4 linked regions of the Homo sapiens genome follow. The protein of the gene in region 4 interacts with the protein of the main gene of each other region in a pairwise test. Each region holds a gene or a part of one and is shown on either strand. Other genes may lie near its edges.

Region 1 (7,025 bases), on a different chromosome or scaffold from region 4:
CTGGGGACCCTGGGCAGCTCCTGGCCTTCTCTGAGGGCACCTAGGGCTGTGTGCACCTTAACACCCCTCCCCCACCCTCCAACCTCCCCCAGCTGTGCACAAAGAGGGCAGGGCCGGAGGCTGCACCACAGTCCCCACCACCAGGACAGGCAGTGAAGGCAGCGCCTCTGCCCTCGTCCCCACCTAAAGGAGCTGCCCGGCCCAGCAGACGCCCCCCTCCACCCACCTTCTTGTCAGGTGTCCTGCAAATTCCAGGCTGTGTTTGAGGTCCACTGTTGGTCACACTGAGGCAACAAGCAGCCTCTGAGTTCACCTGTTAGCCACGTGGCTCCTCACACAGGCCCCCACCTAAGCCTGGGCAGATGGTCCTACTCCTAGCAAGCAGGCGCCTGGCTCCCAAGCAGAACCTTGTGATCCCAGCCTGATCTCCCGCGTCCAGAAGAGGTGGGCAAGGCCAGGTCACGTGAGGAATGCCTCTTAGCTTTCTGCTGCTCAGGAATGGCTGTCACCAGGACCACCTCTAGGAAGAGCGGGTCAACCGGATGCAGATCCCGCTTCCTGGATCCCTGGCCTGGAGGCAGGTGGAGGCCAAGCACTGCCTTGCTCCTGCCCCAGGGGGAGGCGCTCTAGCTCTGCCAAGTCCAAGACCAACAACACACATGCGCGCGCACGCACGCACGCATACAAACTCTCACATATGATTACTTTTTTTCCCTCAATTCAAACCACCCCTGCAGCAGGGCCTGGCTCGGAGCCTCATTCCTTTCCCTCTGCTGCAAGAAGTGCCCGCCTTGGATGCTGTGTGTGGAAACGAGGTGAAAATGCTGGACCAGGCTGGAGAGGAGCTGCCACTCACCAACCTCAGAGCCTGGGTTTGGATTCCATCTCCCCAGGCTCTGAACCAGCTTCTGTCTCTGTCTTTTCTAGAATCTTAGATTTGTCCAACCAGAAGAGACCGCAGGGGTGACAAGACCCCTGCAAACTGCCTCTCAGGGACCCCCACAAGCCCGGGAAAAGAGGAGCGGCCCATGGGACTCACCATTTCCCTGCAGGAAGATCAGGCCTATGACCATGCAGAGGGGGTGCGCGTTGAACTGCAGGTCGCTCTCCCAGGCAATGCCGCCTCGGTACAGCCCGAGCCACGCGCCGGTCATGGCCACCAAGGTCAGGCCCAGCAGCTGGGAGAAGGCCACGTAGTAAGGCAGTGCTGTGGGGGTGGCTGCCGCGGCCCCGCCCTCCATGCTGAGGCAAACGCTGCAAGAAAGAGCAGAGCTCAGAGGAGCAGCGCACAGCACCCCGAGATGCGCACAGCCCCCGCGGATGCACACAGCCCCCCAAGATGCGCACAGGCCCCCCGAGATGTACACACCCCTCAAGATGCGCACAGCCGCCCCCGGAGATAAGCACGGTCCCCCCAGATATGCACAGCCCCCCCCGAAATGCGCACAGCCGCCCCTGCTAGATGCGCGCAACACCCCCCCCGGGTTGCGCACAGCCCCCTCCAGATGCGCACAGCCACCCCGCTAGATGGGCACAGCCCCCCCGAGATGCACACAGCACCCCCAGATGCGAGCAGCCCCCCTGAGATGCGCATGTCCCCCCCACGGATGCGCACAGCCCCTAGAGACTGCGCCTGAGATGCGGCGCGGCTCCTCCCACGGCGGCCCCGCCACCCTCCCCCGAGGCTCCCGCTGGAAGCAGCGCTCGCTCTCCTACCCGCAAGCCCCTTCCCACCCATCGTCCTGAGGCAGAGGTCTCAAGTCTCGGGAGTGGCTGGGGGGAGGGGCCCAGCCTCCCCACGGGGACAGGCGTGACCTGGGACACGACGCCAGGAGTTCCATATGCGGTGAGGGTGCAAGGAAAGATACCCCAAATTCTAGTGAGCTCAAGGGCCCAGTGCCCGGCTTTGTTTTCTGTTTCATGAGGCCCTGGCCTTCCCTGGGTGGGCTTTACAGGTGAGTTACACAGGCAAGCGCGCTCCTTGACGGGAAGGAAGGGGCTGGTCACACCTTTTCTCCAGACGCGTCATGAAGTACATCTCGGGAGAAATGGGAAGTCTCCCTCCCCCATCCTGGTTTTTAACTCCATGCTGGCGATGAGGAGGCCTCCCCACCCCACACCCAGGAGAGCCAGCCCCGCTCCCCCCACGCCCCCGCCCGCCCCCCACCCCGCTCCCCGCCCGGCCGCGCCTGCAGAGTAGAAGTGCCCCGACCATGCTGCACACAGGGACCTGTCAGCACACAGGGACAGGGCACTTCCCCTCCACACCAGGGGCGGGGCGGACCCGCACTCTAGAGGGGCCCTCAGGGAGGTTTCCAAAACTGAAGGCCCCCAGAAACGAGGCCTGCGAAGGGGCCGGGTAGAGCTCAGCACGGCTGTCCCAGGTGCTCGGCCCCACGTGGCCCTCCAGGAGGAAAGGAGAGCGGGTGGTTCCTAGCGAAGCAGCAATGAGAAGGCCCCGCTAAGAGCCCAAGGGAGTGCCCAGTGCCTGCACAGCTTCATGCCGGCCGGAGAGCACCCAGCAGCTGGGGATGGGAGGAGAGGCGGCAGGAGGAGAACAAGCGGGGCTCTCCCCTCACCCGGCAGCGGCCTGTGCGCCACGGAAAAGTGCTGCCATGGCCCACAGTTGCCACTGCAACTGCCACCACCATGGCCACCACAAGCAGACCCCAGAGCACTGCTGCTGCCCCCCATCCCGCCCCGGTTCCCCACTGGCCCCTTGCCACGGTCCAGCCTCTCCTGGCAGCAACTGTATCAGAACTAGGGGGACAGTGGCCAGCACAGGGGCACTGACCCCCTTCACACCCGGCACACGCTCTGCCCTGCAGTGCCCAGGAGCTGGTTTTCAGTCCCTCCCAGTGATGGGCTCCTTCTCTGCTCCCCAGTTCTCTCTGCCACATCGGACAACTGTTGGCAACTCCACCATTAAAGGGGGGGTGTGTGTGTGGGCCGGGTGCGATGGCTCACACCTATAATCCCAGCACCTGGGGAGGCCAAGGCGAGTGGATCACCTGAGGCCAGGAGTTCAAGACCAGCCACAACATGGTGAAACCCTATCTCTACTAAAAATATAAAAATTAGCCGGGCATGGTGGCTCACACCTGTAATCCCAGCTACTTGGGAGGCTGAGGCACTAGAATCCCTTGAGCTCAGGAGGCAGAGTTTGCAGTGGGCCAAGATCGCACCACTGCATTCCAGCCTGGGTGACAGAATGAGACTCTGTCTCAAAAAAAATTTTTTTTAATTAAAAAAAAAAGGGTGTGTGTGTGTGCTAATAATCCACACGCACTGCAGTAGAATATGGATCAGCAAAAAAGGTAAAATGACAGGCCATCAGAATTTGATCTATATCCTCACACACCTTCTTCCTAAAACACATATGCATCCTTTTATAGAAGCAGGATCATTTATTCCATTTTCTAACCTGCTTTTTAACTGAGGGCGTAGCACACATGGATGTTTGTGTCAATGGATACGCGCCCACATCATCATTTTCGTAACCTCACACTCTTGCATTGCACGGCCATTTTTTAGCCAACTAGTTCCCATTGTTCAGCATTTAGCTAGCTTTCGATTTCAGTTTTCCACCAAATAAACAACAGGATGTGGTCATCTGCAAACTTCTCTGCAGGGAATCCTGAAACAAGGGCTAGGTTCTGTTTTAGACTTCTGACACATTCCATCAAATCATCTCCCAGAAACATAGCTCCAATCCACATTCCCAGGGTGGACGGGAATACGGGATTCCAGAAGCCCCAGCCAACAATAAATCCTATTTTTGGAACTCCTGCCTCTGTCCTTATCTGTCACCTACACGGGTATCAGTTCTGTCCCCGCCACCCCAAATTCAAGCCCCATTTCTGACGGTTCACTACTCATCTCTACCTGGACATCCCACAGACGCTTCAAACCCAGCTCGTCCCAAGTCACCTTCTCTCCCATCGTCGCCAAGTTCTCTCATGCCCTCCCCACTAGCTAGCAGGGCTGCCCTTCTTCCGGGCCCAGGTGACACCTCAGCTCCTCCACAGAAGGCTGCCCAGGCCGCCGCATGCTGGCACCCCTCCCCTCACTTCCCTCCTGAGCATCCTCACTGCCCCACCCAAGTCAGGGCCTGCAGCTTCTCCCTCTTCAACGTGACAGACATGCCAGGGACAAAGCCAGCTCCCAACATCATGCTGTCCCCTGCGTAAGTGCCCCCGAGTGCCAGTGAAATGCCAACTGCATGGCATGATCCTGCCCGTTTCCATCTGCAGCCCCCACTGTTCCTGCTAGGCCCTCTAGAGGAGACGCCTGGGCTCACAGAATCCAAGGACATGGCCCAGCCTGGCTCCCTGCTGTGGGCCCACACCCCTGCCTCCACTCCTCAGGCACCGCGGTGCGCAGATCACTCTGTCCCCAGGCTCTCCCGGAGCCTCCTTACCCTCGCGGTGCCCTGTCTGCTCCTCGAAGGCAGGGACGCTCTCACTCCTCCTTGGGTATCTTTGGGTCTCTAATACCCCGAGTCTAACAGGAAAATGTACTGAAAGAAGTGCTGTCCCCCCTGGTCACTTGTTGTCTGTCCTCCTCTCCAGGTCGCCGCCTCCTTTATTAGATTCATCCCCAGAGAGCCTGGCTGCAGGCAGAATCTGATTAGCTACAAATTAGGAAGAACAGAGGGGACATCACCTCTCCCTCTGCTGGGTGACCCGGCAACTTCCTCACACCTCGTGGAGTACAAAGGGCAGGAGAGGCCCGCAGAGCGAGGGGCCGCTGCCCACTCCTTCCTTCCCACCAGGCTCCCTGGAAGACAGTGGACATCAGAGCCAGGCTCTCTTCTCGCAGCGACGACTGCCTGCGGCTTCAACATCCTACAGTGAAATGCCCGGCCTGGCCTCCCGGGGAGTCGGAACCATAACATTGTTTGCTCCCCACCATGGCAGGGCAGACGTGTGCTTGGTGTGTCAGTAGGGTGGGGACCCAACAGCCTGTGAGCACCTGCTCTGTGCTGGGCACTTCATGCCATCTCTAATGTCACCCTTAAATGACACTGTGTGGATAACAGGAGCATTGCCCCAATTTGACAGGCCAGGAAATGGAGGCTCAAAGAGGACAAGCGACAGGCCCCCAAATTCCCATCAGCAAATAGCAGCTCAACTCAACCCGCAGCCACCTGCACTTGGCCAGGTGCTAGGGCCACACAGAGGGGGCCTGGTCCCTGCCCTAAAGGGGCGTGCAGATGAGCTTTGGTACAGACCCAATTTTCAGGTAAGGGTGGTACAAGTTCAAGCCAGGAGCTAATCTGGGCCTCCAAGACCCGTCCCAGCATGCACACGGAAGACGGCACCCCTGCTTTGATGTCTGTGGGCAATAGCATCTCTAGCTCTCCTGCCGAACAGTGGCTGCCTGCTCGTGGCTTTGGCCTTTCCAAGGCCCAGGAACTAGGGTGGTGCTGTCAGTCTTTCCAGAGACTGAGGCCAGCAAGGGTCTGTGTTGGAGCTCACTGAGGAAGCTGCTTTGACGCAGGGGAAGCTCCCGGGCGGTGCCCCCCCTCCTGTGCCAGTCCTCCTGCGTCCTCCCCGCCTCGGTTCCACCATGGCACTAAGCACTGGTGCGTGCAAGACAGCAGGCCCTGACCGAAGGCAAGAGGGAAGGGGTTACAGGAGGGCAAACAAGCCGAGGAAGATGCATTTCCATTTGCTCCTAAGGCGGGTGCCCTGGCCTAGGCAGCCCAGGCACCCGGGGCACCTGGGCATCTGGGAGGAAGCCAGAGATGAACAGCGGCCTCTGGAATGACAGCAGCCTGCTTCTGATTCAAAGGCGAGGCTTCAAAATCTAAGTGTAAGGATGAAAGGAAAGCCCATGGCTGGCCTGCAGGCGACCACAGTCCGTAGGTTCTGAGCGTGGCTCTGTGCTTTACAGGAGATAAGCGGAAGATCCCTTCCGCAACAGGACTCTCGTGAGGCCATTCATTGGACATAATTGATAACCCATTTGTGTGCAGGGAAGGGCTGTCCCATGCCAGAGGTGGGGGTGTACAGGGATAGACATTCTGGTATCTCTGGACAGAATCTGACCCACCCACAAATGTGTCTGCTGCATTTGCAAACCTGGACATTGGGTGAGATTTCTCCCTAGGAAGCAAGGCTTTGAATCGTGGCCCTCATTTCCCAGTCTTGACAGCAAGAATACTCTCTCGCTCTTCCCTCCTCACTGGGCAGCCCTGGGACACCGGCTGTTCTTGGGCCCTCTGTGTTCTCAGAGCAGAACTGTGGGCAGCAGCTTCAAGGCCTGGAAGCTGCCACTCCCCACCCCCAAGGGCTCCACTGCCCTGCAGACCAGAACCTTGCAACCAGAGGGAGCTCACGTAGCCCCTCACACAGTCACTTGCCTTCCTCTGTGACAGCTCAGGATGAGGGTGACAGATCTCTGGCAGTTTCTGGATCTTAGAGCTGTGAGAGTCACCCTCGTCCCCACCCACTCACCCTACCTGCAGCCAGAATCCACTTAATGCAATCAGCGCATTAGGGACAGCATGACCCGCAGATCTTCACTGAGCCAAGCATCGCTCTCCCTCCCGGTGCCCACTGCGTTTTATTAAAAGGCAACCAAGACTAATCTCATTATTGGGGACCAGACACTGCACATGGTGCACAGCCTCGGGGGCGGAAGGCGGAGCAGGGGAGGCTGGGAAGCGGGCAGCCTGGGCTGGCTACAGCCCTCCTTATCAACAGCAGAGTTTGAATTGAGTTAGGAAAGACTGTGACTGCGGAAAGGCCGATATCTCTTCTTGATGGGTGAAGGGGAAAACAGCTCAATTGCCCTAGAGCGTCCTAGCATGTGATGAAGGAGAAAGCAAAGTGTGGTGTGAGCTATTAGGGTACTTTCTTAGCACCCCAGTAGCCCCAGGAAGAAGGGGCTTCCCAGGCAGTGCTCCCCATCCCATGCCAGTCCTCCTGCATCCTCCCCACGCTTGTACCAGCATGGCACTAAGCCCTGGTGCATGCAGAGACACCAGGCCCTGACCAAAGGGTAAGAGAGAAGGCATT
Region 2 (7,612 bases), on a different chromosome or scaffold from region 4:
GCAGTGACGCAATCTCAGCTCACTGCAACCTCCACCTCCCAGGTTCAAGCGATTCTCCTGCGTCAGCCTCCCGAGTATCTGGGACTACAGGCGAGCACCAACATGCCCGGCTAATTTTTCTATTTTTAGTAGAGATGGAGTTTTACCATATTGGCCAGGCTGCTCTTGAACTTCTGACGTCAAGTGATCTGCCTGCCTCGGCCTCCCAAAGTGCTGGAATTACAGGTGTGAGCCACTGCACCCAGCCACACAGCAAATATATCTCAGTTGAGCTGAGCTGACCCTTCAGATTTCATTTAAACAAGCTTGCTTTGAATATTTAAAATTATTTAAACTGAAGAGCTATCACTTGTCCGTAATATTTTACTGTGTAAAGCAAGGCATACTTTTATTATTCGGCCTCATAAAGAATTTACGAGCCCCTATTCAAGACCATTCAGAATGCCACCAGATCTCTTATTATCAGTGGGAGGCAGCCTATGACGGCCTAATCACTTCTTGTCTCTTCCCAAGTCCCCAGCACTCTCCTTTTTTGACTCCTTTTTTCCCCTCTTGATAATCACAGCCTGAGGTCTCTACTGGACTATAAGCTTTGGGGTAGCAACTATCTCCTTCGTTTGCATTGCTGGCCCCTAGCACAGTGGCTGTTATGTAGTTGTTGCATACTAAACGTTAAGCAAATAAATATCTGATACTAGTAGTTCAAGACAAAGCCTTCAATTTCTCCATTGAGACAACACGCTAAAGGTGGGTAAGTCATTGTTTAGTCTAAAACTGTCCAAAACTCTCAGTAATTATTCCTTTAAAAAAGAAACATCTCACCTCAAAGCATCACTTTTAAAAAAAGTTCTCACTGATACTCCATTGTCTATTTTAATAGTTCTAAGATTATTTCTATTTTTCCCCTATATTTTGTTTAAAGTCCCACAAAAATCCCAAAGAGTTTAAGTAAACTTGCTCAAAGGAACACAGCTCAGAGAGCCTCAGGTCTCCTGGATTCCCATGTCCATGATCTCACTACACGGTACTGTCGTAGGACAGCTCCCAGATCTTTCACCCTGTAAGTTGTTATAGTTATGGTAAGAGCAAATGTCTTCAATAACGTGCACAAGTGCTAAAGTTTCTTCCAAACATTTCCTAGGGCTTTTATGAGATTCTGCGAGGGGAGAAACTCAGAACAAGGTGCAGCCACCTCAAGGTGTCCAAGTGTTTCCCTCTAGGTTCACAAGTCAACTAGCTTTACTTAAAAATGAAACCAAAGGAACCAAATTAAACATTAACTTGTTAAAAAAAAAAACACTTCAACCAGACTATTGTGAAGTAAGAACATTAGAAGACCAAGGAAAGGGCCATAAAGAGGAAATTTTGCACTGCTTGCACTGCTTCTTTAGGAAAAAAAAAAGGTAAAGGTAAAGTTAGCTTCCTCACGTCCTTTCTTCCTGTAAATTCCAGGTTGTCACTTTCAGCCATTGCTCTGACATTGTTTAAACAGTAAATGGCAGTTCCCATGACACAGGATGGAAACCATAACCTTCTCAGGTATCCGTACTAAAAATGTTTAACTTGCTGAAAACATCACTTCCCAATCTAAGGAACTTGCCAAAGGATTTCACATGCTAACCCTCGGCCCACCAGGCTTATAAGGAGGACATTCTGTGGAAATTAATTGGTTATTACCTAAGCCAGCTGCAACACACTATTATTTATATATAAACAGCTATAATTTGTTGGGGTCTGCTTTGTACCAGACATTATGAGAAGTCTTTTGCGCTTTAATCCTCATTATTATCCTCATTATTAATCCTTATTTAATCCACCTTATTATCTGAAGTAGCTATAATCCCATTTTACTGGTTCAGAATGTTTAATGTGCCTGAGCACCCACCGTTAATAGAGGAGACTGGTAATGAAACCAAGGATTTGAAAAGTTAGGTACAGATTGAAAACCCACGCCGAATCCAGTGACACTAAACAGTTGAATCTCTTCAAAATATAACACACATGTCAAAATGATTTTAAGGTCATTTCAGAGCAGGCAAGACTTGAAATAGAGGACCGGCAACATTAATAAATAAAAAAGACTACAGGACATAACATTTTGAGTTGGTTTCAAGCCGTGGATAATTAATGATTATCCATACCTCTGGATGGATGTTGACAGGGGTTCCCCGCCCCTTATTTTCGCTGAGAAACCAAGTCTTCCCTTCCGTAAAGGGAGCAGCTCTGGAATGCCACACGTTGAAGGGTTTCGGTGTGGGCTGCCCAGAGCTGGGCTGTTACTGTTCACACATCATCAGTAAGTGCCTCTCAAAAAAAAAAAAAAAAAAAAAGAGAAAGAAAAGAAAAACCACACACACAAACACACACACACAGTCCCTCCTCCACCAACTGAACTTCAGCCCTGACCTCCGGAGTGGTTCTGGACAATCTGGGGTTTAACCTGTGCCCTTCCAACGCCAGGACCGGGGTACCCGAAATGGGTTGCAAATGAATGAGATGACTGCTCAGAGGAAGGAGACTAAGGCACACATCTCTCCTCCAGACCACAAAATCGAGGAAGCATGCCCTGGGCGGGGAGGGTGGGGGCCGGATTAGAGCCACGTCCCCGCTTCGCAATCCACCTTTCCCCTCCCGCGCTTCGGAGGACTCTCCGCTCCCCAGCCCATCCTCCTCCTGGCCCCTCCGCGCGCTCCTTACCCGCTGGTGGCCAGGGCTCCAGACACTCCCAGCTGAAGGCACTTGCTCCCGGGAAGGGGATTTGCCAGGGGATGGAGCCCGCTGCCGCAGCCGCCGCGACCAGCCCCGGGCGTCACCACCCTCGGGCCGAAGCCGCTAGAAAGTTTGCTCGGGGTCTCGCCCTCCCACGCCGCGGCCTGACTAGGGGAAGCAGCTCTCCGGGTCCCTCCCGCGGCCGCCGCCCCCGAGGCCGCACTCGGCGGCGCTGCAGCACCGGCCAGGCTCCGTGCGCGCCGAGGGCTGGGTCTCCCCGCCCCACTCGGCCCACGGCGCGGCGCTCAGTGTTGACCGCGGCCCCGCGCCCGCTCTCCCCGCCCGCCGCGCGCGGCCCGCTCCCTGCGCCCTGCGCCCAGCGCGCTCTTGACATCATTCATTCTCTCACACCCTCGCCCGCCCACTCCATTTCCAAACAGTGACTCACCCGTCGGCCCGGTGGCAGCAGTGCCCGTTCCTGCTGCCGTGGCTCTCCTGGCGCAGAGTGGAGCTCGAAAAACCTGCGCGACTTCTTAAGAAGAAAATCCCAGCCGACTCTCCCCTCGCGGCTGTTTAAGGTGCAGAGAAGGAGGGGCTTGGCAGGCAGGGCAGTTTGGCTCCCGGCCGAAAGGCTGAGGGCCTGGAGCTGACCTCCCTGAGCGGCAACAGAGATCAATCTGGGAAAGTTCTTTGGGTGCCACTCCCAGCAACTTTCAGGGGTGGGGCTGGAACGGGATCCCCCACCCCCGCACCCGGCCTGTTTCGGAAACTGCTTCCTGACGGCGTGTGAGTGGGCTTGGGAGCGCCAGCGTTGATTCAGAGGGTTTATCGGTGTTGACCGGGCCTAGGTCAAAGAGGTGGGTTTCCAAACCTCACAGCGTTGCCTGGCAAGGTTAGTCATCAGTCCGCATGGTATGAGCTGGAAGGTTGCTCCAAGCTAATGAGGTGGCAGCACTGTCCCTTTCGTGCCTAACCATCGTGTCATTTGTCCTGTTAATTGATTTACTTCTCACTTAAGGAATCGTAACCAAAATAAACAGTGTAAGTAGTTATTTGCTTAACTGAATACTGCGCTTTTCCGCAGCTTTTGGGGCCCAAGGCAGCCGTGTGGTTTCTTCGAAGGCCTCAGTAGTTTTTTAAAAGGGGGATTGCTGTCTTTAAAATGGTAATGGTTCTACATTGTCCTGGAGTTGCTATTCATACACCTGCTGGGCAGTTTTCAAAGTAAACGATGGCAGCCTCAAGGACTCTAACTAGGAATGACCAATCCGAGGGAATGTGGCTAAATCTTTCTTGACATAAGTTTTACATTAATGTCTCCTTCTGGACAAGATAATTATGTTTAGGATTTGCGCTGGTTTATGGGTGCTTCCATATAATCAACAAAAATAATGACGGGAATCTTTGGGTTTCTAGTGCAGATATCATGTGGGTCAACAGTCATTTGTGGCTATTAAAGATGATGGTAACAGAAAAGAATATACAAGGCAGGCAATCCCCAAACTCGCAACTTCAAGATGTCGTCACAGTACAGGCAACCAAAGAAAATGGACAAATGGGATCATATTAAGCTAAAAAGCTTCTGCACAGCAAAGGAAACAAACTGAAGAGACAACCCACAGAATGGGAACTATCCATCTGACAAGGGATTAATAACCAGAATATATGAGGAGCTCCAACAACTCTATAGGAAAAAAAAATCTAATAGTCCGAGTAATAAATGGGCAAAAGATTTGAATAGACATTTCTCAAAAGAAGACATACAAATAGCAAACAGGTATATGAAAAGGTGCTCAGGCAATAAATACTGGCGAGGTTGTGGAAAAAAAAAGGAACCCTTGTGTTTGTGGGAATGTAAAAAGTATAACCACTATGGAGAACAGTATGGAAGTTCCTCATAAAACTAAAAATAGAGATACCGTATGACCTAGCAATCTCACTGCTAGGTATATATGCCCAAAAAAGGAAATCAGTGTATCAAAGAGATACCTGCACTCCTATGTTTATTGCAGCACTACTCACAATAGCCAAGGTTTGGAAGCAACCTAAGTGTCCATCAACAGATGAATGGATAAATCGTTACATATACCCATGGAGTACTATTCAGCCATAACAAAGAATGAGATCCTGGCATTTGCAACAACATAGATGGAACTAGAGGTCATTATGTTAAGTGAAATAAGCCAGGCACAGAAAGACAAATTTCACATGTTCTCACTTATTCATGGGAGCTAACATTTAAAACAATTGAACTCATGGAGACAGTAGAATGATGGTTACCAGAGGCTGGGAAGGGTAGGGGGGATGGGTAATGGGTAAAAAATATATATATAGTTAGATAGAATGAATAAGGTATAGTATTTGATAGCAAAACAGGGCAACTACAGGCAACAGTAATTGTGCATTTTAAAATAACTAAGAATATAATTGGTTTGTAACATAAAGAAAGGATAAATGTTTGAGATGGTAGATATCCCATTTACTCTGATGTGATTATTATGCATTATGTGCCTATATCAAAATATTGTGTGTACCCCATAAATATACCTACTATGTACCTACAAAAATTAAATTTAAAAAAATTTTTTTGAGATGGAGTCTTGCTCTGTCGCCTGGGCTGGAGTGCAGTGGCTTAATCTCAGCTCACTGCAACCTCCACCTCCTGGGTTCAAGCAATTCTCCTGCCTCAGCCTCCCGAGTAGCTGGGATTACAGGTGTGTGCCACCAACCCTGGCTAATTTTTGTATTTTTAGCAGAGACAGGGTCTCAACATGTTAGTCAGGCTGTTCTCGAACTCTTGACCTTGCGATCCACCCTTCTCGGCCTCGCAAAGTGCTGGGATTTACAGACATGAGCCACTGTGCCCGGTCCCCCCAAATTTTTAAAATATAAAACCAAAAAAAGATGTTGTCACAATACAGAAGTTTCCCCCAAATGAAAATGCTCCTAAAATTAACCAAGGGCTCAACATCATTGTTGTGGAAAATGGACTCTTTTAGAGCTACTTTTAAAGGTTAGAACCCAGAGGAGACCACCAATCGAAAGTTATTGTCCTGGGGTTTATTTTTCCCCTTCAATAAGGAGCTCATTTTCAAATTTACAAAGCCCAGGCATTTTGCCCAGAAGGCAATAGCAAATGGATTGGTTTGCTAGGATGCAGTCAAAATTCAAATCAGCAGTTTTTATAGACAATCACAGAGCTAATTCAGAAGCATGGGTGTCCTATCCATTGGTAACACTGAATGACTAGATTCAAATGTATAGCCATCTATAAGTAAGTTTGCGTGAATATCCCACCTACTCCCTACTTCATGATCCAAATATTTGGACATTATGGGATAAGTCTAAATACAATTTTCTACAGATCTCAATTGATATTGTGGGCTTTTTGGCCTGTGTACATGGATAAAGTCAAAAAGCTCCAAACAAAGCTTGCAGTTCTGCCTGCACTGTTGGCTGATATAAACCCTGTAGTTCCCTCATAAGCCTCTGTGTGGAAGGCTGTTGAATGGGTAGTTTTGAATTAGTGGTTACTATTGTGCCTCAGTTTAAATATTGTGAAATAAGTAATTAGGTCATTTTATTATACCATTTAAATATCCCCAAGTACATATATTAAATAATATAATTGATAATGGATGATACGAAGTTTTTTCAATCTATTCATTATCAACATATGAGAAAGCAAATTACTCATCTTAATTTCTATGTTTTAAGAAATAGTAACATCCTTTTCACAGAAAGATGATTTTTTTTTTGTTTTTTAACTGCACCTTTTGTTCTTACCATGTATGAAAAGTGACAAAATTTGCAATTCATCACCTTTCAAAAATAATGGCACTGAGTGTTTCAAGGGAGAGAAATGGATGATAGATAAGTGTGTTCTTGTCCATTGTTTTCTCCAAGGCAGCATAAATCAAGTTTTACAGGTATTTCTTTGATTTGATAAAACATACTGATTTAGGAAAACATGTAGATCTATAGTACTTATTTCCTCTTACAGTAACTCGAATCTGAACATATCTAAAGTCATTTGCTCAACCCACAAATTTGTATTGAATTCCTACTTTGTGCCCATGGCTGTTTATCTAAGAATCTCCATGGTCCGGGCACAGTGGCTCATGGCTATAATCCTAGCACTTTGGGAGGCCAAGGCAGGCAGATCACGTCAGGCCAGGAGTTCAAGACCAACCTGGCCAACATAGTGAAACCCCGTCTATACTAAAAATACAAAAAATTAGCCAGGCATGGTAGCACATGCCTGTAATCCCAGCTACTCAGGAGGCTGAGGCATGAAAATCGCTGGACCCTGGGAGGGGGAGTTTGCAATGAGCTAAGATCCTTTCACTGCACTCCAGCCTAGGCAACAGAGCGAGACTCTGTCTCAAAAGAAAATAAAAAAGAAAAAGAAAAAGAATCACCATGTTACCTTCTAAACGAACATATGTCTCAGGAATTGAAAGGTTTTTCTTTTTTTAATTTTGCATGAGGATGTTTATTGCAGGATTTGCAGATCAGTTGGGATATGAGGATGAAGCCAAAGATGACTTCTATATTTTTTTTGGTTTGAGCTCTTTGGTGGATGGTGGTGCCCTTTACCAAGACAGGGAGTGCTGAGACAGCAGCAGCTTTTGGGGGGCAAATGATGAGTTTCAAACTTGATGAGTTTGAGGTGTGAGATGTATAAATGAAAAGTGAGCAGCTGATGATACTAGTCTGGAACTCAGAAAAAGAGGCATGGACTGGAGATACAAATTTGAGAATAGCCAGCATGTAATAGTAAAGGATTCCACGGAAAATCAACCGAGATTGTCTGGAAATATTAGAGAGTGAGAAGATGTCCAAGGGAAAACCCATTATAGTTTAGGTAAAGTAGGAAAACATCGCAAATGAGGCTACAAAT
Region 3 (7,025 bases), on a different chromosome or scaffold from region 4:
TTAGGGTACATGTGCACAACGTGCAGGTTTGTTACATATGTATACATGTGCCATGATGGTGTGCTGCACCCATTAACTCGTCATTTAGCATTAGGTATATCTCCTAATGCTATCCCTCCCCCCTCCCCCTACCCCACAACAGTCCCCAGTGTGTGGTGTTCCCCTTCCTGTGTCCATATGTTTTCATTGTTCAATTCCCACCTATGAGTGAGAACATGTGGTGTTTGGTTTTTTGTCCTTGCGATAGTTTGCTGAGAATGATGGTTTCCAGCTTCATCCATGTCCCTACAAAGGACATGAACTCATCATTTTTTATGGCTGCATAGTATTCCGTGGTGTATATGTGCCACATTTTCTTAATCCAGTCTATCATTGATGGATATTTGGGTTGGTTCCAAGTCTTTGCTATTGTGAGTAGTGCCACAATAAACATACGTGTGCATGTGTCTTTATAGCAGCATTATTTGTAGTCCTTTGGGTATATACCCAGTAATGGGATGGCTGGGTCAAATGGTATTTCTAGTTCTAGATCCCTGAGGAATTGCCACACTGACTTCCACAGTGGTTGAACTAGTTTACAGTCCCACCAACAGTGTAAAAGTGTTCCTATTTCTCCACATCCTCTCCAGCACCTGTTGTTTCCTGACTTTTTAATGATTGCCATTCTAACTGGTGTGAGATGGTATCTCACTGTGGTTTTGATTTGCATTTCTCTGATGGCCAGTGATGATAAGCATGTTTTCATATTTTAATTTGCTTCACTCTAGTAACCTTTTTACTGTCTATTCATATCCCACAACATCATGTTATATCCCTTAAATATATACAATGAAATTTATTTTAAATACATAAAAGTGAGATTTTTAAGTGTTTATTAATTCATTTTAAAATATCACTAATAAATCCATTACATGTTAACATAAAGAATGTATGGATCACTATACTTTACCTCTTTCTTCCTCCCGGATCTTGAAGTTCTGCCTTAATTTGTAAAACTTCCTTTGTATAGCATATCTGATACATATCTTTAATTGGCATACATTTTCATTTTTAGTATTTTTTAACTTGCTTTACTGCCTATGCTTAACAAGGCAATCTTTTTTACTTTTATCTTCACATTTTAAACACAATTGAACAAAAGAAATGTTATTAACACACTTTTACAAGAAATTTCTTTTTCCTCAGAATGTCAGAGTAAGTTCAGAAACTGAATATTGATTTTCCTTTTTAAGTTATGCAACAATGACATGAAAACCTTTATATTTTCCATGTGGTAGGAAAAAGGATATAGGTACAATTTTAATCTCATAAATACATGCGCACATGTATATGTGTTTGTGTATTTATAATCTATTAGTTACAATAGTCTGAAAGGGAACAATAACATGTTAATATGATATTTTGAGTCACGCGCTTACAGGTCATTTTTATTTTTTTCTACTTTTTGGTATTTTCCAGATTTTCTTCAGTGAAGTTTTAATGAATCTATTATTAGGATTAAGTTAATTGATTTAAGATGTGTCTTCCACATTCTGAAACACCTTAATGAAAGGCAGTGGTTTTTCTTTTTTGGAAAGAAATAGTGATTTTTACTCTTTTACTTTTAGCTTAGCCCTTGTATTTTACCAACCGAAATGTCAGTTTGTAGATGTAACATTTGTAGTCATCTGAAAGTCTGGCAACATATCTTAGTGGTTAAGTGTCTAGGATCTGGAGTCAAAAGACCCATGTTCAAATCCTGATATCTGTTTGCTAGCAAGTAAATGTCTTAAGTTCTCTTAAGCCTCAATCTCTTTATAAATGAAATGTACAAATTGTTTATTTAAATGAAGTAATAATAGTACCTCATAGCATTGTATAGCTTAAATGAAATTACTCATGCAGAGCTAAAACTTAGTTCAATATCTGGCACATGGTAAACATGCCATAAATGTTAGTGCTTTTTTTTTTTTTTTTTCCTGACTCTGGAAATCTAGGACCTCTCCCTTCTTCCTTCAAACCTAACAAAACATTGTTGTGAACTACAGGATTTTTTGAAATCAAGGGTAAATGTAATCCAAGCAAGACTTTGATATTCAACACCCATTACCTGTCCATAGGAGTTTCCTGCTGGTTGTATTGGTTTCTATGCCCTGTAACACCATATGTGTGGCTGGGCCTGTCTCTACAACCCAGTGTGGTCTGCAGTGTGGTTTCCCAACTGTGGTCTATAAGATGACTTTAGATGACACAAAGACAACCCTTTAAATTTTTTAAATCTATTTTTATGGGTGAGCAAAAAACACAACTAGCACATTAAGTCAGTGATTACATGAATATTTTTTAGAGTAAGGTAAAAATGAGTATTGAGGAAAAATGCAAATCACTGTAAAGAAAAATATTAGGTTATAGTACTCTAAAGTATGGCAAAAATTGCAAAGATGGTACTTGAATGGCTGAAGTTTAGGTTTCTGCTCTAGAGGCTCCTTCCCATATCTGTGTCCAGGGTGCTCATACACTGTCCCAGAAGCTCAGTAGTACATGTGAAACCTGTCTTTTACCTAAACCCTTGTCATCTACGATATGCCTTGGGATCTCACCTTTTATTATGTTTTCTTCCTTCCTTTCTTTCTTTTTTTAAAATTAAATGGGCTCCATATATTTCTAAACAAAGAAATAGGAAATCTACCATCCTCCTAAGGCAATTAGCTCAACAGCAGCTAGCTTTTTCTTTTTTTAAAGTTTGGAAAAATATACTGTTATATCTACAGTCTTTAAATACATAGATTATTGACCATTACTACCTTCCTGAATTCAAACCCTGTGTTTCAATTAAATATAATATTGTTTAGTATTAAATAAAACAACTGTGTACTGTTTTATTTAATAATACTCATTGAGTCCACCAATGTCAATTATTTTTGTTGTATTAGGACTTATTGAACCTACACATATATTGGATTAAATGTTTTTGTCACCAAGTTAATTTTTAAATGTAAATTAGAACCTAAAATTTTGATGCTTGAGCAGGTACTTAAATTTGCTGTATTCACTACGATGGAAATTTTTTTGCTGTGATAAATAGAGTTGTCTTTACAAATATTGCATGAAAGCATATTAGTATAAGTAAGTGTACAGTTTGTGCATAATTCCTTACTCAGTGGGAGGCATAAATTCCATTCCCAATTCATAAAAATTGAACAAGTAGTATTTATTCCAAAAAAAGGGAGTAGTTTTACAGTGATTTATTGAGGAGATAAACATATCTGATTACAAAGAATTTATTTAATAAGCTAATAGCTTTATTTTATATTACTAAAGATGTATACTTTTTTAAAAAATCTTTATTTCAACTATTTCTAAATAAAGGTTTATTCAGTGATTGTCCTGAAATTAAACTAGCTCATTAATTACTCTTCCTGTCTTTGCATACACACACACACACACACACACACACACACACGCACTCACATACACACAAATAGGCATAACTTTTGATTTTTTAAATCCTTGGGAGACCTTACATGAAGTTGATCGACCTAAGAGTAGGAATAGAAAGTTATTTTTTTTGTTGCAGATATGCCTGTAGTATATATGCATTTAGTAGTGCTACTGAGAACGATAGACCTGTCTATCCTCTCCCCATGTGCTAAACTTTATGGATGTACATTTAAAAACTTATAGACCATACATGTACTTTGAGGATCCCATGTATTTGCATTTTTATTTTAGACAATAGTTTTCCTTTCTATAACTATTACTCCAAAAAACATTCTTACATTTTGGTAATTAGATAAGGACTACATGAAGACATCGGTATTTGACTAACACATTTTGAAAATTGTCACATAAGCTTACTTTAATATATGCTAAATTATAAATACTAAATTTATAGTAACTTGTTATGATGTATTTATATATGTGAATGTAAATAGCATTTTAGTAAACATACATGTACATATATTGAACCTCTACTGTGAGAGAAATGCAGTTGTCATTGTTATATGCTCCTTGTACCCTAATCCTTGTTCCTACCACTTTTAGTATCAGTCCCTTGTCCTACTGTAAATTTATTGGGTAAGATAAGCAAAAGGTAACTCCTCTTTGTAGAACTTGGGGAACCTCTGCGTTAGGATTAAATCAGCCTGATTAAATGACTTCATAATGAAATGCAGAACTTCCTGACCACATACTTAAGATTTATTAGCCATTAATGGGTTGTCTATGAACTCCCAGCCTTTCACTTAATATTACTAAGATGGAAGAAATAAAACCAGCCATTCAGCTTTCTTAGGCTTTCCTTTTATGTCGTCCTTTCTCCTGCACAGTCACTCCCAGGAGTTTCCTGTCCACACTTAAATGAATTTACAGCTAATAGAATATCAGGTAGTGTAGGAGAGAGATTTGCAGGCATCAAGGTTAATTTCTTTAATTATGTAAGTCAGTATATTTAGCATAGTGTAAGATTGGCTTAGGAGTGGTAAGAGAAAGGAGTATTTTGTAAGGTCCAAATTTCTCTCCCTGACTGGTCTGATCACTGTTAAGCCATGCTGCTCCCTTTATCATTCCTCACTAATGACTTCTCTGTCTCAGCTCACATTCCCTGGAGTAGGCAGGCACACTTGTTAAATAGTAGGAAGTAGAAAGCCTACCTGGTTTCCCCAGGCTCAAAGGTTCAGTGAGAAAGAAACATGTTTTGAAGCAACCATTTTGATAAAGCTGCTTTGAAAGATATAATGAAGACTTTCTGAAAACAGAAGAAAATAACAATTAGTTTTATGCCTTCTGTATAAACTTAAAATATGCACTAATCAACTTTTATTGAGAAATATAAGCATTAGGCATTCTCATTCCATTCTTGACTTCTCACCAACTTTTACTTTACTGTTCTCTCTGTTTCATGTTTCTGCATTGCTACTATTCCACTCCAGATATTAATCTCTCATCTGAAGAACCATAGACTTTGAAATTATGATAAAAGATCAAAGGGAGACAAAACAGCAGCAGCTGGTCTCTCAATGTGGCTCTAACAGTAACATACGAACTTAGTAGCTTGTAAGTGGTCACCATCAGTCTACCATAGCCATAACCAAACCAATGACCAGTTTTGTTAAATTCTCTTAAGAGGAAGTGATTCAGATGGGCCACAGAATTCAACCCATGGCTTGGCTCCCTTGGGTTTGCCAGTGTATTAGGGAGAGGGTGGCTGCAGGGTCTTGTGGTCCATTACATACTTAGTAACAGCAATGAATATCGATTTTCTTGGGTGATTGCAGCAGCCATTGCTTCCTCTAAGATATATACATGTAAGTCAGAAGAAGTTGAACTTGCTGTTGATTATTAAAATATTTTTTATTGGCCATTAGTGCTCTATAGGATTAATTGGTTGCTCTTTTTCTGTACATTAAATCTAGATTTATTTATTTATCTATTTATTTATTTATTTTTTGAGATGGAGTCTCACTCTGTAGCCCAAGCTGGAGTGCAGTGGCTCGATCTCGGTTCACTGCAGCCTCTGCCTCCCGGGCTCAAGTGATTCTCGTGCTTTAGCCTCCTGAGTAGAGTAGCTGGGACTACAGGTGTGTGCCACCATGCCTGGCTAATTTTTTGTATTTTAGTAGAGATGGGGTTTCACCATGTTGCCCAGGTTGATCTTGAACTCCTGAGCTCAGGCGATCCACCCACCTCGGCCTCCCAAAGTGCTGGGATTACAGGCGTGAGCCACTGCGGCTGGCCTACCTTTAATTTTTGTAGGCTGTGGTAAATAATTATAAATTTTTACAGTAGTTTAGAATTTGCCTTTTGTAATATACCTAATTCAAAATGGAAATCTATTCTCGTTTTCCTGTTAATTTAATTCTTTTACTATATAAGGGGTTATGCAATATTCAAAGATTAATTGTAGAACTACTGTATCATAGGTTCATTTAAAAATGTATTAATGACTTTTGTCTTATAGGACAAACTATTCGAGAGAAAAGAATTGTAGAAGCAGCAAATAAAAAAGAAGTAGACTATGAAGCAGGGGATATTCCAACAGAATGGGAAGGTAAGTTTCTGCTTTTAGTAGAATCTCATGGGAGGTAAGTTATATAACAGTATACAAATTCAATAAGAGCATATATAGTTATATACTGTTTCTCTTTGCAAAAAAGTTTTAGTGTCTGAATGTTTGAAACTTTGTTTTTTTAACATTGCATTTCTTTGAAAGTTGTGAAGGTGCTGAATTTTAGTAAGCAGATGCATGTATAGCAAAAAGAACTATTAAGCATTATCAGAGCTGAGACTAAGGTGAGGCAAGCCAAAATCCTAAGATGCAAAATTTAAGCAGGCACTCACTTTCATGTAGTGACCCAGCACTTGCACAATCCTAGGATTTGAATCCTGTTTCTGGCACTCATTACACACATGAACTTGCAAAGTAACTTAAACTTTTAGTTTTTTCTTTTATAAATTATGCATAATACTTGCTGTAGATACCATTTGGAGTATTTTTTCAACTCACAATAACTCTATGATAACTGACTGCCTGTTAAGACAAGGATGGATGCTCGATCCCTTTCCTAAGACTTTGAAGTTAAAATAAAAGATCAAAGGGAGACAAACAGCAGCAGTTGGTCTCTCAGTGTGGCTCTAACAGTAACATATGAACTTAGTAGCTTGTAAGTGGTCACCTTCAGTCTACCATCAAAGTTTTATTGCATAAAAAGCTAATTGATTTTAGAAAAGCTAATATTGCAGAAAAAGCTGATTTACTGAGAAGAAAACGGAAACTAGTTCACAATGAGAAGTACATAGAGAGAATATTTCCTAGTTTTCCAACAGCTTTCTGGTTCCCAGTTCAGTTTCTCTCTGAATGAAGTTCATCTGCAAGACTGAGTTCAAAATGGCACCTCATAACCATGTTATGTATTTCTGTTTTTTGCTTACCAGTTCCTAGCATAGTGCCTGGCACATTGTAAGGCACCTAGTAGGTAGTTAATCAATATGTATTGAATACCTGAGGCCGGGAGTGGTGACTCACGCCTGTAATCCCAGCACTTCGG
Region 4 (7,025 bases):
AAAATCATTGAGGTGTTAGTGCTTGATATAATTAAAAATTCGACCACATGTAAGAAATAAAACTAAAATGTTAAGATCCTTCAAAATAAAATTAGGAAAATTTGAGTAGTATTTTTGTAGTGTCTTAATTCCAATGTCTTTGTGACATATTCATCTTTATATTTCTAATAAATTAGTCAAAGATAATATAACTTTTAAATTAGAAATGTTTCTCTTAGATGTATAGAGCATGAAACAAAGTAAAATATATACATTATTTTTAATTAGAAAAGACACATAATAATTGTATTATTAAATTTTCCCATGTGGTGTCTTAGTCTATTCCTGTTGCAATAATAAAAATACTTTAGGTAATTAATAAATAACAGAAATTTATTGCTCACTATTCTGGAAGCTAGGAGGTCCAAGATCAAAGCATCAGTAGATTTGGTGTCTGGTGAGGGCCTGGTCTCTGCTTCCAGAAGGGGGCAAATGCTGTGTCCTTGAATGGCAGTGTGGCAAAAAGGGTCTCACGAGTTCTCTCAGGCCTCTTCAATAAGGGCACTAATCCCATTCACTTCCCAAAGTCCCCACCTATTAATATCACTGCAGTTAGGGTTAGGTGTCAACATGAATTTTGGAGGCACACAAACATTCAGACCATAGCAAGTGATTCTCGGATTGTTTGTCTTGAATTTCTGTATACTTTCAACATGGTTGAAAGCTGTATTTCTCTTTAAATATTTAAATTGAGTATCACTAGATTAGCACCTTGTATTTAACTCTCATATGCTGCTGGTAGAATTAAAAATATGATCTCTCAGGCTGGGTGTGATGGCTCATGCTTGTAATCTCAGCACTTTGGGAGGCCAAGGTGGGCGGATCACCTGAGATCAGGAGTTCGAGACCATCCTGGCCAACATGGTGAAACCCCGTCTCTACTAAAAACACAAAAATTAGCCGGGCGTGCTGGCATGCGCCTGTGGTCCCAGCTACTCAGGAGGCTGAGACAGGAGAATCACTTGAACCCAGGAGGCAGAGGTTGCAGTGAGCCAAGATTGCACCACTGCACTCCAGCCTGGGCGACAGAGCAAGACTCCATCTTGGAAAAAAAAAAATGCTATCTCTCTTAAGTGGAGTTTCACAAGATGTATCAGAAACCCTTAAATAGATTTATATCCTTTACTTCAATTTGAAATCTATGGGTTATTCCTAAAGAAACAATTGGCTAGATATATAAAGATTAATGAACAAGAATGCAGCCTTGCTTATAAAAGTGAAATACAGGAAGCAACCCTAATGTCCAGTATTTAGGATTAGTTAAGTCAGGTGTGGCCTATTCATATAATAGAATATTGTGAAGCTATTAAAATTATACTACCTGTATTTTTAATTTGGGGAAATTATGATATAGTGTAAATATATGATATTATCATGAATTTATTTGATATTTACAGTTAAATATTGGTGACTGTCTGCCAAAGAGAGTAATTTTTATTTTGTCATTATGAAAATTGAGTCTTCCTTTCTTGTAATTGAAAGATACTGGAACCATTTGTCTCTTGAGACTACTCCCAGTTTTTTTTAAGCATATAAAATGATATTTACCTCCCATTTGCTATGGCCAAAAAGCAATATCTAATTCATGTAAAAGTATCATTATACCATTAAAATATAAATTAAAAAAAAGACTGAGATACATTTCTATTTTGTACTACTTAATAGTTATCTGGTCTTCTTGATTCTGGTTGTGGTATTAGATTTCAGAATTTTCAGGAACTTTAAAATCTGGGGGCTTTTACTGAGCTTTTACTGTCACAGCTCCCAGAGGGCTGCTCAGTCCCTCTGCCGACTGAATCTCTGGTTCTCCAGGGAATAAGCTGCAGCCTCATTCTCAGTGAGGGAGCAGATGGTCATTCTTCCAAGAAGCTAGAACCCTGACCCTAAGCCCAATCTTCTTCCGTAGGACCGTTCATGGCTGTGGCCAGACCACTGTGAGGCAGAACACTTGGTTTTCCCCACCACGTGTAGACAGATGGGCATCCGTGGGGCTTCTGCCCAGCCCTTCCTTGGCCAAGATCCCTCGCTTTTGGGATTCAAGAGATCTTTTACTGAGAGGATTAGTGTCTTCCCTGTCTGCCTGATATCCCAGTTTGGGGTCTTCTTTCAGACAAGTGTCTGAAGAACATGCCCTCACTTAATAGATATGTTCTCACATCCACATTGAGTTGGAGATCTGCCCCAATTCCAAATCTCAGTCTTGCCTGTGGAAGCCCGATCCTCCTCCACCTGCCGTGTTGAGGAATGCTGGAAAATCCAGTGAGCAGGTTCACATTGGTACAGTTTGGGTTAGGAGACTATAAGGAAGAAGTGAACAAAAGGTAAGGAAGGGAGATATTGGGACCAAAGTCTCCATCCCTGCATCATATACCTAATATGTGAATATCAGAGTTGTTTGTTGAAACCAAAAGATGGCAAAAGGAGGATCAGGAGTGGAATCAGAAGTCATAGAAAACTGGTCTCTTGGGGTATCTGTTTGGTTATGTGAATGGTAATTCAACTCCTATTATCTTGGGAAGAATGTACCTGAAATTACCAACCTGCCGTTGATTAATGAACATATCCATAAATAACTAATGAACTGGGAGCCAGGAGGAGGCATTAACATAATGTGTTGTCATTGTGTTACCAGTGCAGAGTGGATATTGCAGGGCTCAGCACATTTGCCCTGTTGATGCCTCCATGAGAATTCATTCATTCATTCAGCCAGCCAGCCAACCTACCAATAATTACCCACCATGAGGCAGACAGAGCAACTGAATCCTAGGGTTGTAATGGTGAACAAAATAGAGATACACCCTCCTAACCTGAGCGGCCTAGCCTGGGAAACAAACAATTAAAATGTGCGCTAAATGCTGTGGTAGGAGGTCAGGGGCTATGTCCTGGACCAAAGGACATTTGCACTGAGACCTGACACTTCAGGTCTTCAACTCCCTTGATGGGAGTTAGCCAGAACGGGCTTAGAAACAGCAATTGATGGCTTAGTGACTGATTTTACAAATGATATTTGTTTCTTCTTTAAATTTCTTTCTAGGATGTTCACTTCTCCACAATGAATGAGTGTCACTATGACAAGCACATGGACTTTTTTTATAATAGGAGCAACACTGATACTGTCGATGACTGGACAGGAACAAAGCTTGTGATTGTTTTGTGTGTTGGGACGTTTTTCTGCCTGTTTATTTTTTTTTCTAATTCTCTGGTCATCGCGGCAGTGATCAAAAACAGAAAATTTCATTTCCCCTTCTACTACCTGTTGGCTAATTTAGCTGCTGCCGATTTCTTCGCTGGAATTGCCTATGTATTCCTGATGTTTAACACAGGCCCAGTTTCAAAAACTTTGACTGTCAACCGCTGGTTTCTCCGTCAGGGGCTTCTGGACAGTAGCTTGACTGCTTCCCTCACCAACTTGCTGGTTATCGCCGTGGAGAGGCACATGTCAATCATGAGGATGCGGGTCCATAGCAACCTGACCAAAAAGAGGGTGACACTGCTCATTTTGCTTGTCTGGGCCATCGCCATTTTTATGGGGGCGGTCCCCACACTGGGCTGGAATTGCCTCTGCAACATCTCTGCCTGCTCTTCCCTGGCCCCCATTTACAGCAGGAGTTACCTTGTTTTCTGGACAGTGTCCAACCTCATGGCCTTCCTCATCATGGTTGTGGTGTACCTGCGGATCTACGTGTACGTCAAGAGGAAAACCAACGTCTTGTCTCCGCATACAAGTGGGTCCATCAGCCGCCGGAGGACACCCATGAAGCTAATGAAGACGGTGATGACTGTCTTAGGTAGGTAAGAGGACCCAAGCAAGCCATCATTCCCATTCATTCAGCAAATCTTTACGGAGCATCTGTGGTGTACCAGGCACTTACTAGGCAGTAAGAATGCAGCAGTGAACAAGAACGGACATAAATCGCCACCCACCTGGAGCTTACACTCTAATAAGGAAAGATAAAATAAGTATTCTAATGGGGGTAAACAAATTAAGTGAAATAAGATGAGTCTCCTGTGGAAAAATCAATCAGGGAAGGAAGGAAAAATAAAGCAGGGAAGGGAGCTGGAGAGTGCTAAGCTAAGCAGGTATCGTTTGCACTTTAAAAAAGTGTTGTGAGGGATGCCTGGAAGATGACTTTTGAGCAGAGGTGTGAAGGCAGTCAGGGAGTGAACCATACTGGTGTCTGGGGAAGGGTGTTCCAGGTGGGAGAAGCGGTAAGCACAGGAGCCCTGACCAGCCAGGAAGCCACTATGGCTGCATGGATCGAGCAGAGGGAGTAGGAGAAGATGAGGTCAGGGAGCTGGTGGGGTAGGGGATGGGCTACTCAGATAATGTAGGGTCATGTGGTTATAAGGACTTCAGCTTTTCATTTTTTTTTCTTTTTTCTTTTTTTGCCGGAGCCTCACTCACTCTGTCACCCAGGCTGGAGTGCAGTGGTGCCGTCTCAGCTCACTGCAACCTCCACCTCCCGAGTTCAAGCAATTCTCCTGCCTCAGCGTCCCAAGTTGCTGGGATTACAGGCAGCGCACCACCATGCCCAGCTAATTTTTGTATTTTTAGTAGAGATGGGGTTTCTCCATGTTGGCTGGGCCAGTCTCAAGTGAGATGAGAAGCTATGGGAAGGTTTTAAACAGGGGAGTGACATGATCTGACTTATATTTTAATGGTATCTCTCTGGCTACTGTTTTAAGACACTGCTGTAATGAGGCAATAGCAAAAACAGGAAAATTGTTTAACCTATTTATGCCTAGTGTTCCATTATTGGAATGCTAAGCTTGTGGGAGTTATTTATATCCTACTGCTCAAGGTCATTGACAAGTTCTGATTTTTCACAAAAGAAATTTGCAACCCCTGGCATAAATGGGTTAATAGAGTATTTCAGTACTCGGGAGAGATCACCATGGCCAGATGGTAGTTGAAGGTGATGGTCAGATTCTGTTTTTTTGTTTTTTGTTTTTTTTTTTTTGAGACAGGACCTGGCTCTGTCATCTAGGCTATAGTGCAGTGGTGCAATCTCAGCTCACTGCAACCTCCACCTCCTGGCCTCAAGTGATCCTTCTACCTCAGCCTCCCAAGTAGCTGGGATTACAGGCCTGTGCCACCAGGCCCGGCTAATTTTTGTAATTTTTTTAGAGACAGGGTTTCACCATGTTGCCCAGGCTACTCTCGAACTCCTGAGCTGAAGCCATCCGCCTGCCTCGGCCTCCCACAGTACTGGGATTACAGGTGTGAGCCACTGCACCTGGCCAGATTCCAGATATTTTTTAAAGGATTTACTGATGGGTAAGGTAGAGGGGAAGATGAGAGGTGGAGGAGAAGGTGGGGAATGTCATTAACCAAGATGAGGAAGACTGAAGAGGAGGAGGTTTTGGGGGAAGATTTGGTTTTGGACAAGCTAAATTTAGGAACCTATTAGACATCCAAGGGGTGTGGCAATTTTATTGAGTGGACAGTTGGATGTTTGACTCAGGAATTCAAGATTTAGGTCTGGGCTGGAGATGTACATTTGAGAGTCCTGGGGGGAAACTGGTATTTTAAATCACAGGACTGCGTGAGCTCACCATGAACGTGAATGTGGATATGAAGGAGAGGAGGACCAAGGATGGAGCCGTAGGGCAGGCCCTCCAGTGTAAGGAGGTCAGGAGGTAAGGGGCAGCCAGCAAAGGAGCCCTAGAAGGGATGGAAAACCCAGGAGACTCTGGGGAACTAGAAGAAAGAGAAGAAGGCAATCGAGGAGAGGAAGCATTAGCAGTGTTGGTACCCCTGAGAGGTGGTGTAAGACCAGGTGTTGCTGGCCTTACCAAAGTGGTGGACTTGTGCTGATCTTGAGATCATCACATTTGGTATAGCCAAGAGCCTGATTGGAGTAAAATTGAGAAAGAAAGGAAGAGCCTGGGCAACATGGTGAAACCCCATCTCTATGAAAAATACTAAAATTAGCTGGCCATGGTGGTGCATACCTGTAGTCCCAGCTACTTGGGTGGCTGAGGTGGGAGAACCGCTTGAACCCGGGAGGTTGAGGTTGAGTGAGCTGTGATCACACCACGGCACTCCAGCCTGAACAACAGAGTAAGAGCCTGTCTTAAGAAACAAAAACAAAACCAAAAAAAAAAAAAGGGAGGAGAGAAAGGTTGTGAGCCCTGTACCAAGAAGACATGTGGTTTCGTAGAATTTTCCCTTTGTTTTATTTTCTCTGAAGTAGGTGGCCTATTGCCCCACCTCCCCAGTTCTAATTCTGGGTTACAGGTAGAATTTGTAATGTGTGGGCAGACAAGAACTTTTGTGGTTTCACAGAACTTGTCTTGTAAGGCAGAGAGGCCGTTTCTCACTGTGTGTGTGGCTGCAGCAATGGGGACTGTTGCTGAGAGAGATTCAGGAGTACATTTCTGTCTACTCCTTATGAGAAGGAATTATAAAATGAATTATCAGGTAGCAGTTCATAGTGGAGGATACAGTATGTGTGGTGTGGTATAGAAACCCTCACAATGCCTCTAGGTCCTGAAACTGCTAGTAAGATTTGGGGGTCAGCAGACACAGAGTGTGATTGTTAAAATAATTTCAAACTGAGGATTTATTTAACAAATATTTATATAGTGCTTAATATGTGCCAAGCATTGTCCTAAGTGTTTTTACAAACATTAACTTATTTAATTCTCATGGAAACCCTGTGAGATAGGTGCTACTATTATACCCATTTACCAGATGGAGAAACTGAGAGTTTAAGCAGTGTGTCCAGTCACTCAGCTGTTAACCAAGACTCACTGCGCAGCTGGCCTCTAGAGTTCACATATTTACCACCATACTCTGTGGCTACTTGTGATTTATCTGGACTTTTTACGCTCATCTTTTTGTCCTGTCTTCTGCTTTGACACCGTTGACACATTGATAAGAAAATGGACAAGAACAAGAAAAAGAGGGTTCACATTAATCGGCATTTCCCCTCGAGCTGGAGAAGATATTGATGTTTTTGATAAAGAATGAACTTTGGTAT

Evidence for each region.
Region 1: the proteins of LPAR3 (region 4) and CYB561 interact in binary tests that used the Homo sapiens proteins (3 or more experiments, as listed by UniProt).
Region 2: the proteins of LPAR3 (region 4) and SGMS2 interact in binary tests that used the Homo sapiens proteins (3 or more experiments, as listed by UniProt).
Region 3: the proteins of LPAR3 (region 4) and NDUFAF2 interact in binary tests that used the Homo sapiens proteins (3 or more experiments, as listed by UniProt).

What each region holds. Positions count from the first base shown.
Region 1 is NC_000017.11:63,436,307-63,443,331, forward strand, and holds part of CYB561 (transmembrane ascorbate-dependent reductase CYB561), read right to left. Parts: intron 4,522-7,025; exon of another isoform or gene 4,421-4,521; intron 3,962-4,420; exon of another isoform or gene 3,894-3,961; coding exon of another isoform or gene 3,886-3,893; intron 1,255-3,885; coding exon of another isoform or gene 1,242-1,254; coding exon 1,040-1,241; intron 1-1,039. UniProt on the Homo sapiens protein: Transmembrane reductase that uses ascorbate as an electron donor in the cytoplasm and transfers electrons across membranes to reduce monodehydro-L-ascorbate radical in the lumen of secretory vesicles.
Region 2 is NC_000004.12:107,820,339-107,827,950, reverse strand, and holds the start of SGMS2 (phosphatidylcholine:ceramide cholinephosphotransferase 2), read right to left. Parts: upstream 3,020-7,612; 5' UTR 2,698-3,019; intron 2,280-2,697; exon of another isoform or gene 2,142-2,279; intron 1-2,141. UniProt on the Homo sapiens protein: Sphingomyelin synthase that primarily contributes to sphingomyelin synthesis and homeostasis at the plasma membrane.
Region 3 is NC_000005.10:61,067,187-61,074,211, forward strand, and holds part of NDUFAF2 (NADH dehydrogenase [ubiquinone] 1 alpha subcomplex assembly factor 2), read left to right. Parts: intron 1-5,938; coding exon 5,939-6,028; intron 6,029-7,025. UniProt on the Homo sapiens protein: Acts as a molecular chaperone for mitochondrial complex I assembly. Complex I functions in the transfer of electrons from NADH to the respiratory chain. The immediate electron acceptor for the enzyme is believed to be ubiquinone.
Region 4 is NC_000001.11:84,862,187-84,869,211, reverse strand, and holds part of LPAR3 (lysophosphatidic acid receptor 3), read left to right. Parts: intron 1-3,073; 5' UTR 3,074-3,091; coding exon 3,092-3,827; intron 3,828-7,025. UniProt on the Homo sapiens protein: Receptor for lysophosphatidic acid (LPA), a mediator of diverse cellular activities. May play a role in the development of ovarian cancer. Seems to be coupled to the G(i)/G(o) and G(q) families of heteromeric G proteins.